Linked DNA regions of Homo sapiens: region 1 is linked to region 2. Evidence: fine-mapped expression QTL. A gene starts in region 2. The other region holds a variant in brackets. All regions are shown on one strand. Distances are between the middles of the regions.

The links. PIP is the estimated chance that this variant, and not a neighbour inherited with it, causes the effect. A credible set is the group of variants that fine-mapping cannot tell apart.
Region 1: its variant is the best candidate, but not a certain one, in a credible set for the expression of NIPSNAP3A in gastroesophageal junction (GTEx, PIP 0.62).

Annotation. Positions count from the first base shown.
Region 1 is chr9:104,765,803-104,771,188 of GRCh38, forward strand. NIPSNAP3B (nipsnap homolog 3B) reads left to right here. Exons shown (of 6, transcript NM_018376.4): 2 at 523-733; 3 at 3,061-3,219; 4 at 5,047-5,196. Among named protein-coding and RNA genes, the nearest start is that of NIPSNAP3B, 4.4 kb to the left of the region's middle. The variant A/C (reference allele first, on the strand shown) is at 2,326.
Region 2 is chr9:104,744,368-104,749,753 of GRCh38, forward strand. It overlaps NIPSNAP3A (nipsnap homolog 3A), which reads left to right and starts at 3,316. Exons shown (of 6, transcript NM_015469.3): 1 at 3,316-3,485. The coding sequence starts at 3,426. It overlaps LOC107987105 (a long non-coding RNA gene), which reads right to left and starts at 3,272. Exons shown (of 5, transcript XR_007061705.1): 1 at 3,082-3,272. RefSeq lists a silencer at 3,210-3,299 and an enhancer at 3,720-3,879.

The sequences.
Region 1 (5,386 bases), 21 kb after region 2:
CAGGAAATACTTTGACCTGAATAGCCCTTCCTGTTTTTTTAGGAACCTTTTAAAAACAAGAGTTTTTTGTTAGTAAACGTATTTTTGGGCCTGCCAAAAGGCATGTGTACTTAATAAATTTTTTTCAATGTGTGGAACTAATACATATGGTATTGAGTAAGATGGAATATTGGCTAAACAGGGGAAAACCCTTTGTAAATTAAAGAGACTAAGTCTTAAATGTAGTTCTTCGGTAAAGGAGTATCATTATGATCCCACAGCCTTCTTGTGAGCAAATTCTCGTGAAAAAATGGCTAGAGGTAGACCCCTGCTAGGAAACAGTTGCTATATATTCATCAGAATTAAGAGTAGTTATCTTTATTGACATCTCTATGTAAACAAGTGTATATGGAGAATTGACAACAAAAGTAAACAATGGATAATGAGTCTATGTGTGTTCCTTGTACCAGACTCAGATTTGGTTGTAACCAAATCTGTAATTGTACCTTCCCAAGATATTTACATTTGTCTTACCTCCTTCAGGTGTGTTCATCTTTTGCTACGGGCCCTAGACAATACGATGGAACGTTCTATGAATTTCGTACTTATTACCTTAAACCTTCAAATATGAATGCGTTCATGGAAAATCTTAAGAAAAACATTCATCTTCGGACCTCTTACTCTGAATTGGTTGGATTCTGGAGTGTAGAATTTGGAGGCAGAACGAATAAAGTGTTTCATATTTGGAAGTATGGTAAAGAGTCATCCAGTTTTAGTATTCAGTATAGATTTTCATTCTGTTAAATGTAACATAAGACTTAGTTCTTGGATCTATATTACCATAGATACATACAGGTTAAGTAAGACTTTTTAAAAGCAATACCAAAAAAATAAATTTAGCAGATCTTCTTCCCAGTGGTACACCTCTAACCACCCCTTGCTTGAACTCTTATGTTATCATAAATGAGAAAACATGCAGTCTCATATATCAAACCATAAAATTGTGAATTAGACTTTAATCCTCAGAAAAATGTTAGAATCGTTTGCTATAAAGATAGCTCATGAAAAATTTAAAGCAGTAATTGTAAATGTTCAAGTGGGTTAAGATCACCGTTGGGCCTGCCAAAAGACATGTATATTTAATAAAAATGTTTTAAATGTGTAACTAATGTATATGGTATTGACGAAGATGGAATACTGGCTAAATAAGGGAGAAAGCTTTGTAAATTTATGAGACTCCTAATTGCAGTTCTTGGGTAAAGGAGTGTCATTAGGATAAGATAATTTTTTTTTTCTTATTATTGTTACAGCTAGGGCTGGATATCAGCATTTTTGCAGAAATAATTCACCCATTTGGGAGCTTTATAAAAATGGAGGTTTTTAAAGGATGATAGTTAACTTTTAAGCGTCACCCAACTCTGAGATTTAATAATTCTGTTATGTTTAGAGACCACTTCTTTTTTCATTTCTGTACCCCAGAGTTTCAAGGAATTCTTTCATACTACCCTAGGGAGGTAAGGAAAAGGAATGAGAGACAGTCCTTCCCATATTGAAGCTGACCTACCCCTGGTTTAGTAGAGGAAAGAGAACAAGTAACAAGAATCCCCAGAATGTTTGTTACTTCCATGTCTGTTCTTAACAGTCCACATCAGGACTTGAGGATACCTAAAGAACTTTTAATAATTTCATTTACTGTTTAGTGATCAGTGTCCAAAGTTAATAGTCATAAAGTAATTTAATATGAAAAGTGTTCATTCTATGCTTGACGTAACTCTTTAGTTTTTCCCTGTTATAATAAAACAGACCCTATTAAAACATAATTTATGCTTTAGATAAACCACAAGTTGAAACATGTCCCATTGAAAAAACTGCTAATAAAGTGTTTATAATTCATTTATATGCTTTAGATAAACCACATATATAATCCACTTATGTGCGTTAGGTGAGCCACAAGTTTAATTGTGTCCCATTAAACTGCTCGTAAAGTCTTTACAATTCACTTGTAAGATAGGTGTTATTCCTTATCCTCAGCATAAATCATATAATTCATTTACTATTAGTCTTAGGAGGCCCTAAAAGTAAATATACTATAGTTGTCCCTCTGTATTTGCAGGAGGTTGCAGGAGGTTGGTACCAGGAACCCCTGTAGATACCAGATTCAGCTCAAGTCCATTATATGAAACAGCATACTGTTTCCATCAAACCCACACACATCCTTCCATATACTTTAAAGCATCTCTAGATTATTTTTAATCCCTAATACAATATAGATACTATGTAAGTAGTTGTTATACTATATTATTTCACTTGTATTTTTAAAAAATATTTTTAATCTGCAGTTGGTTG[A/C]ATCCACAGATGCAGAACCTGTGGAGAGGGAGGGCTGACTATACTAGGCCCATATCTTGGTAAATGTATATACCTGTTTGGGTAACTTAGAAAGAAGAGAAATAAGTTGTAGAGAAAAAGAATTACTGACAAGAAATAAAAGAATCAGCACTATTTCATTGGGAGCTGTTGTTCAAAAAAGAGGCTTAAAAAGTGCATCTTAATTTCATTTATGTTAACTTTGATTCAAAGTGTACCTTGACCTAATCACCCACCACCAAGGAAAAATAGTCTTTCTCTATAAATCAAATGCTTCCATTGATAAGAATCGTTAACATATACTGAGTACTAACTAAGGTGCCAAACACCATTCTAAGCTCTTTTCATGTACTAATTCATTTAATCCTCACAACAACACTGGAGGTAGATGTTATACTATTTTCTTCACAGAATAAGAAACTGAGGCACAGAAAGATTGAATAACGAACCTAATTCACACAACTTCCTAAGAAAGTCTTAGAGCCTATAAAGCCCATTCTATGTCAATTAAGTTAGTTTTTTACATTTCAACTCCCCTTTTAGACCATGAGTAACTTGAGAGCAGTTGTCACATATATTTATGTTGGCATCTCCAGCGACATAATAACATGGGGTTCCCATATGGCCTTGCACGTTTGCTGAACTGAGTAAAATTCAAGTAAAAATATGGGCGATTTTAAATAAAAAAACATTTTCTTAACTATTTTCCTCCCATAGATAATTTTGCTCATCGAGCTGAAGTTCGGAAAGCCTTAGCCAACTGTAAGGAATGGCAAGAACAATCTATCATTCCAAATTTGGCTCGCATTGATAAACAAGAGACGGAAATTACTTACCTGATACCATGGTCCAAATTAGAAAAGCCTCCAAAAGAAGGTGAGTTCTTCCCTCTTAGACTATGAGTTTTAATGAGTAAAATACTAAAGACCTAAAGTTATAAAGAGTAAAGTTCTATAGGAAAAAAATATATAATTCTTTGTTTTATATAATAATATATGATGAGTCTGGAGATAAAAATGAATTAGAGACTGGGCGCGGTGGCTCACGCCTATAATCTCAGCACTTTGGAAGGCCGAGGCGGGCGAATCACTTGAGGTCAAGAATTCAAGATCCGCCTGGTCAACGTAGTGAAGCCCCATCTCTACCAAAAATACAAAAATTAGCTGGGTGTGGTGGTGCATGCCTGTAGTCCCAGCTACTAGGGAGGCTGAGGCAGGGGAATGGCGTGAACCCAGAAGGCGGAGCTTCCAGTGAGCCGAGATCTCGCCACTGCACTCCAGCCTGGGCGACAGAGCGAGACTCCGTCTCAAAAAAAAAAAAAAAAAAGAGAATTAGAGTTCTAGAGCTCTTTGCTTATCCTTAAAACATTGAGCTTATCCTTAAACATTGCTTATCCTTAAAACAAAAAATGAAGTATTTTTCCATATTGAAATCTAACGGATGCCTAACAAAAGTTGACATGGTCAATACAGGTGAAAAAGTGGGGCTTGGGAGCTAGGAAAACAGGTGTAGGTAGATGAGTCGTAGTTCATGAAATTTTGTCACAGTTTTAAAATGTATAAACTTTTAAATATAAAAGTATTTTTTCCACAAAGTCAGCTAATCTTAAATCATTAAGTACATCTTTGCTTGTAAACTGACTGTTTTGGGGGAATGAATTAACTTACACTGCTAAGCTACATTATTGTAGTTTAACTTTTGTGTCTTCCTCTTTCTTGTTTCTCAGTTTGAAAAGATTTGTCTTCTTCCTGATTTCACTTCTTGCTCACTAAAGGAAATAATTACCTCTATCTAATTTTAAACAGAGGTCAGATTCGAAAAGCATAAACTAATTTAAATTTCATTTTATGTCTCCCATAAACTCAACTTTGTATTTTATTTTAGATTATAAGAGATTTGAAAAGTCTTGTTTGGATTCTAATGTACTTAAAACTCCCCTTAACTTTCAGCACTAAGTAAAACAGTTGACTTCTCAGTGTCAAGTCTTATTAATAGTTCCCTTCCTCTATGTTGTTCATAATTCTTTAGTAACTTTGTATTTCTTTCCTTTTTCTTGTCCAATCTACCTTGTCCTCTAGTTTCTTTCTCTCCACCCATCTTATACTTCTGGCCAGAAGGTAGAATGGTTTTTAAGCATTTACCTGGATATTTAGGAAGAATAAAACCATCTCCTTGAGGGTTTTCTTTTTTTCCTTAAAGGCTCAGACATGACTTTGGGTCAACTAGAAATAGAATCCTACCGGAGAAAATTATACAAAGGAAAAAGTTATTTCCTCTCAAAATTGAAAAGGAGAAGGAAATGTAGGATATCAGAAAGTACTTCTCTTATGCATTTCTTTTTTAAAAAGTGTAGACAGGCAGCTTGAAAATTCTGCTTCATTATACATTCTCAGTATCTGTTTTCCTGACAAATTTTATAGATTAAAAATATTTCAGAGTGTAGTTTATATATAGCTTCCAGTCCTTTTTCTTTATTTTCTTTATGATTAATTTTAACAACTGACCCTTAAACATGGACAAAGACTTTCTAAACATAAAAGCAAAGAAAAATAATGCAGAGAATCAATAAATGTGACTGCATATGTATGTATACATGGATTATCCTCTAACTTCATTGGTTAGCCTTCTAATGAAATCAGGAAAACCTGGTTAGAAATTGTTTGAATGTCTTCTGTGAAATAATTATTTTTCTCCCTATTCTAGGAGTCTATGAACTAGCTGTTTTTCAGATGAAACCTGGTGGGCCAGCTCTGTGGGGTGATGCATTTGAAAGAGCAATTAATGCCCATGTCAATTTAGGCTACACAAAAGTAGTTGGTGTTTTCCACACAGAATATGGAGAACTCAACAGAGGTACAGTTGTCCATTTGTTCTATGAAGTTGCCATGTGTATTAGATCAGTTCGTCTCTCTTTTTCATTTTGGTACCTGTTTTAATTTTTATCTCCAAATTTTTAGAGTTTGTTGTTTATAGGATTGAAAAAATCTATAAGCATCTTATTTTACATCTTATTTTTTTAGAATGTTAATACTTTATGGAGCCT
Region 2 (5,386 bases):
CTTTTTAAAAAGTTTTTTATATTTCATTATTCTAGTTCATTTTTTTCATATTTGATTTTGTATTTTGATTATTCTAGTTCACTTTTTTCACTGTATTTGTTTTCTTTGCAACCCTATGTATTTGTTATACATTTAAAAACATTTGGGATCCACAGGCTCACAAGATTTTGAAAGGATTTTAAGACACAAAAAAAGGTTAGTAATACCTGCCCTAGAGAAATTCTTCTGGCGGAACCAGGAGACATCTACAAATAAATTCAAACAGCTTTGTTTATAATAGTCAGATGGACAAAAAAACAAGGTATTTTCATGTAATAGAATAGCATACTAAAGGGATGTGAATTAATTATTACAACTGCATTAATGTGGTTGATTTGCAAAAGCCTAAAGTTATAGCTAACAGTTATGTAACAAAATAATAAAATTAGTTAATAAACAATCTAAAACAGGCAAACCAAAGCAATATACTCTTTAGAGTTATATACAAATGTAGTTGAATTATTTCAGAAAAATCAATGTAATAACACAAAATTTGGGATCATGGTTACTTGAGGGAATTGGAGGAGAGGGTTGTAAGAAGAATGTGACCAGGAATGAACATGTATTGAGCTTCTGAGTTGCTGGCAATACCCTTTTGCTTAAGCCTTGTGGCAAGAGCACAGACATTCACTTTATTATTCTTCTTTAAAGTGTACAGATATCTCATATACACTTTCATACCTATAATAAATGTTTGATATTACCTTCTTAGATAGGTCATCTCTGTCTATCCAATCCAAAATAACTACCCAGTTACTCTATATCATACGAGCCTATTTTAATAATCTAGTTTTTTGATAGGATTTTTCTAGCTTTGAACTGTCTATCCTTTGGACTATTTGTCAGAATTTCAGGATATGCAACAATAATTTTCAAAATATTTATCCTATACATTTTCCAGGCAGTTTAGGGATATGCTTTTTAAAATAGCCACAGAACAATATTACATTTTAAATTCTGTCTAAAAGCTACTTTCCACTGCAAATCTAAAATTACCTTAATAATCACATATCTTTTAAAAATAAATGGTAAACTGAACTGGTTTTACAATTGGGCTTCAAAGTCTGTGCCACTTCGTAGCAATGAAACTGAGAAAATTCTCTTTTCAGACTTCACCTTTCTCACTTAAAAAACGGAGATAAAGCTTAACTCACAGTATTTGAGGATATTTAAAACCTGTGAGAAAGAGAATAGGAGAATATTTTAGCTACTTAGAAGCACTTAACAATGTTTAGCCATCTCTCAATTGTAGCCATGAATTTTGCCCCTATCTGTATTTTCCTCTTGGAAATTCCTCTTGGAAGTTCCCTGTATCTTTCTGCTGGATGGATGCAGTTAATGATGAGACTAGGGAATGGCAAAGCCACCGGGTAGAAGCCTGGCTCCCTAATTCACTAAGTATAGAAGAGCTACCTGCCAACTAGAAAAACCCACTTTGTATTCTTATAAAAAATAAACTCCTATAGTGTTTGAGTAATAATACACTTTTTTGAGTGTTGATTTACAAGAGCTATTTAATCTACCCTAATTAATATATTATTGAAAGATACTACCAAATGCTGAGTGTTCTGGCCTTCTTCCCTCCTCAGCCTCAGGAAACTGGCAGCAAGGCTTTTCTCACACAGATAAGATACTGGAAGTTTCCCTTCCCTAACACTGACTACACAGATAAATAACTTGCAGATAACAGTTTGGGGGGAGGGGATACAGCCTTCAGTGAAATACCCAGGTCAGATCACCTCACAGTGAAGCCCACTATTTGAAGAGATTCACCTGTGCTTACAGTGCTTTTAACATGTTTTTCTCACTCCAAAATATATTTTTAATGTAAACATCAATAAACGCAGGAAGGAAAGTGTATTTTGAGGGAGTGGTATGAAGAAACCTAAATCCTAAATATCCAAGTCAATAGCTAGAATCCTGACCACTTTTAGAATTCCACTAGCACCTTTATTCGTATCTTACTTTATTTTTCTTTATATTATTTGACAATCCCTGATATATTTACTCTTCCTTTTTTTATCTGTTTCCTCCATCCTGGATGTTCCAAGAGGACGGGACTTTGAATTTTGCTCAATTCTGTACCCCAGTTTCTGGAAAAGTGCCTGGAACATGGAAGGAATTTAGTAAATATCTGTTGAATAAGTAAATGGATTGGCAATTACAGGGTTTAAAAAAAAAGGTCTAAGAAAATAATTTACTCATATAGATCCAGTCCTGATACAAATGATTTTTTTAGTCTTGCATGGTTACAAATAGATGTCTCTCTTCTAGAAAAACTGAGGCAACCCTTCCGAAATAACTAATTTTAAAAAGTCTCCCTTCCTTTGAACAGACAATTCCAAAGCTCTTCCACAAGGCACAACCAATACAACCCAGGTCATGGCCCTGCAATCCCTCCCTAGTCCTCATGATGTAAGCAATATTACATTAATGTTTACAATAATGTAATTATTAGCAAGAATAATGTAAACATTAATATAGATTACTGTAAATTAATAGTGTAATTAATTACTGTAAATTAACATAAGCATTATTAGATGCAGGAAGACAAGTGAATTTGGGGGCAGTGGCATCTATGAGACATAAATCCTCATCTGCCACAGAAGGAAGTCAACACATACTATCCATAACTGAAAATGCAATAAACAGCAGAAAACACTACTTACTTAAAAATACAGAAACAAGCATTAAATGAAACAGCTTGAAATGTTGAAGGTGGTTACTCTGGGAACCAACACTCCCGGACTGGGAGGACTAGACCAGGGTATGTTTAACTTTGACTTTTTCATTTCAGGCTCGATGCTGCCATTTCTCTGAGCTCGTGGAAAATTTAATCTAAATCTTAATTAGGAGCCTTCTAAGATGGAGAACACATTCATTGCAGAGAGGTCAGGCTCAAATACACGTCTATCACAACATCTAAAACTTAACTCGGAAAAAACCTCCACGATTTTAAATACAAAGCACTGCACATGCACGCACTCAACACCTCTCCTTCTTTCCCCATGGTCAACACACCCACAACCCCTGCACATTTACCAATCTACACAACTGAGCACTGGAGCGAATGAGGTGAGTGAGGGCCCAGAAAGTTGAAGCAGGAACGATCCGAGCCTTCAGTTAATCCTAACGTCACCTCTAACGTTTGGGGTAAGAACGTTTCAGGAAACCAAGGGGGAACCAACGCTCAGCACAGCAGAGAAAGACACCAAGCTACGGGACCCGCCGCGCCTCCCGCGCCGGGGTGGAGCTGACCCCGCCGAGCCCCGCCCCAGCCTGCGTCTGCCAATGATCCAGGAGCCGCTCCTTTCCACTCGGGAAACCTTCAGAGGAGTCTCAGAAAGGACACGGCTGGCTGCTTTTCTCAGCGCCGAAGCCGCGCCATGCTCGTCCTCAGAAGCGCCCTGACTCGGGCGCTGGCCTCACGGACGCTGGCGCCTCAGGTACCGGCCACGGGGGTACCCAAGCCTTCACCCGACGGGAGGGGAGGGGCGGGGCGGGGAGTGTTCCGGGTACGTGCGAGCAATGCGCATGCGCTCTCCGCCACGCGCGCCCAGACCTGGGGCCCCGGTGAGGTTCTAGCGTGAGCCCCGGAACCCCAAGACAGGGGTACCCGGAACGCGCGTGAGGAGGAGGCCGCTGCTAGGGGAATACCCCCAGCCGGGGTCGTCTCGCGGGCAGTGGTGGTCAGAAGGCTTTTCTAGCCTGGATGCCACACCCACCGGGACACTCCCATGGCGCCGGCTGTTTCGTTTTTGCTGCCCAGCTATGTCGCGGCTGCGGCCCAGCGAGCGCTCCCATGTTGTCACCTGGCGCTGTGGAGCCGCGGGTGGAGTCGTAGCTTTCCAAGCCACCGCCCTCTCTAGACATCAGGTTGAAGGAGGGAATTGTCAACCAGCCGCTTGCCACGGAACCGGCCTCCCCCTTTTAAATGAAGCACACAACTTCCGAGCATTTCGCGGAGACCCTTGAAGAGGAGGCCCAGGGTCCCGGTGGGGCTGGACCCTGCCCGCCACCCGCGCTTCGTGTGGTCGCTCCCCCAACCAGGCGGGACCGGAGCCTCCTATCAAACCGGACGATGACAGACAGACTCTTTTAACCTTAGATGAGAAATGGACAAAATGGAGCTTGTGATTCTGCCCTAACTTTCGGGAGTGGCCTATTCTGTGGCTTCAACCTAGAAATTTCTTTTCCTTTTGATGTTTAGGACTTTACTCCTTTCTGAAGGGGCAGGATGGGAAGGGGATTAACCTGTCCTAGAGACAGACTGAGGAGCACTAAAGAAGAGCAGCTCATGTCCATTCACCCCGGGTTAACAATGCAGTTTTTACCCTAATGATTCTCCAGTGGGGCAGGGCCAGGAATGACGTCCTTATGGCATGATTCCAAACTTTAAGTTTTTAGAAATGTCCATCAGTTGTTCTCTTTTAAGTGAAGTGGAGGTCGTTGCTGGTGGGAATGATCCCTAACTTGGAGATAAGGGAGGATGGACGACTCATGATTTCTGCCCTAGCAGCTAAAAGTCATCCCTGCAACAAAATTCTTAACTCCCATCCGGCTCCCCCACCATACCCGGCTCCCCTGCAGTCTTCCTTCTCTGGCACCACCTGTCCACATCTCTCTCCCTCTCTCACTGTAGGTTCCCTACTGTATATTAATACTGCCCAAAATTGTAAAAATGTGTACCTTTGATCAACTATTTTATCCTCCAAATACAAATTCCTCGAATCAACCTGAAATCCATTTGTCACAAATGCCCCATTGGCCTATCTCCTGATATATTTTATTATAATAATTTTGAAATTATGGATACTAGGCACTTGCTTCTTGACCAACATTGTTACTAGAGTTTGGTTTAAAAGCACAAAAAGAGTGTCCACAAAAGGCAGGGGCAGCTGCAGCTGTTTTTGTTGGTAGGCTTAGTCATTTGAGCAATAAGAATATAAGTCACACACGAATAGAATTAACTCTAGATAATTATCATTAAGCCTTATCATACACAGTTACATAATTTTGTATTTTGTAAACAAAAATATGTCGGAGCAAAAGCCTACTGCTTTCAGACAGACATACTGGCTAGTCAGTATAAGCCCTAATTTGTCCATAGCTTTGTAGGTATCAAAACTGTCTTCACAGATTATTCTGGTGTAATCAACTTAAGGAAATGGCACATGCTATTCAAACTTAAGTAAGATGGATTTATAAGAATATCACGAATGCCTGTGTGTATACCATGAGTGCATATATATATGTGTGTGTGCGTATGTGTGTGTGTATGTGTATACATATATACACATAGATACCTACATAGAGGATAATCTTAGGCGAGGTATTTCTTACAGAA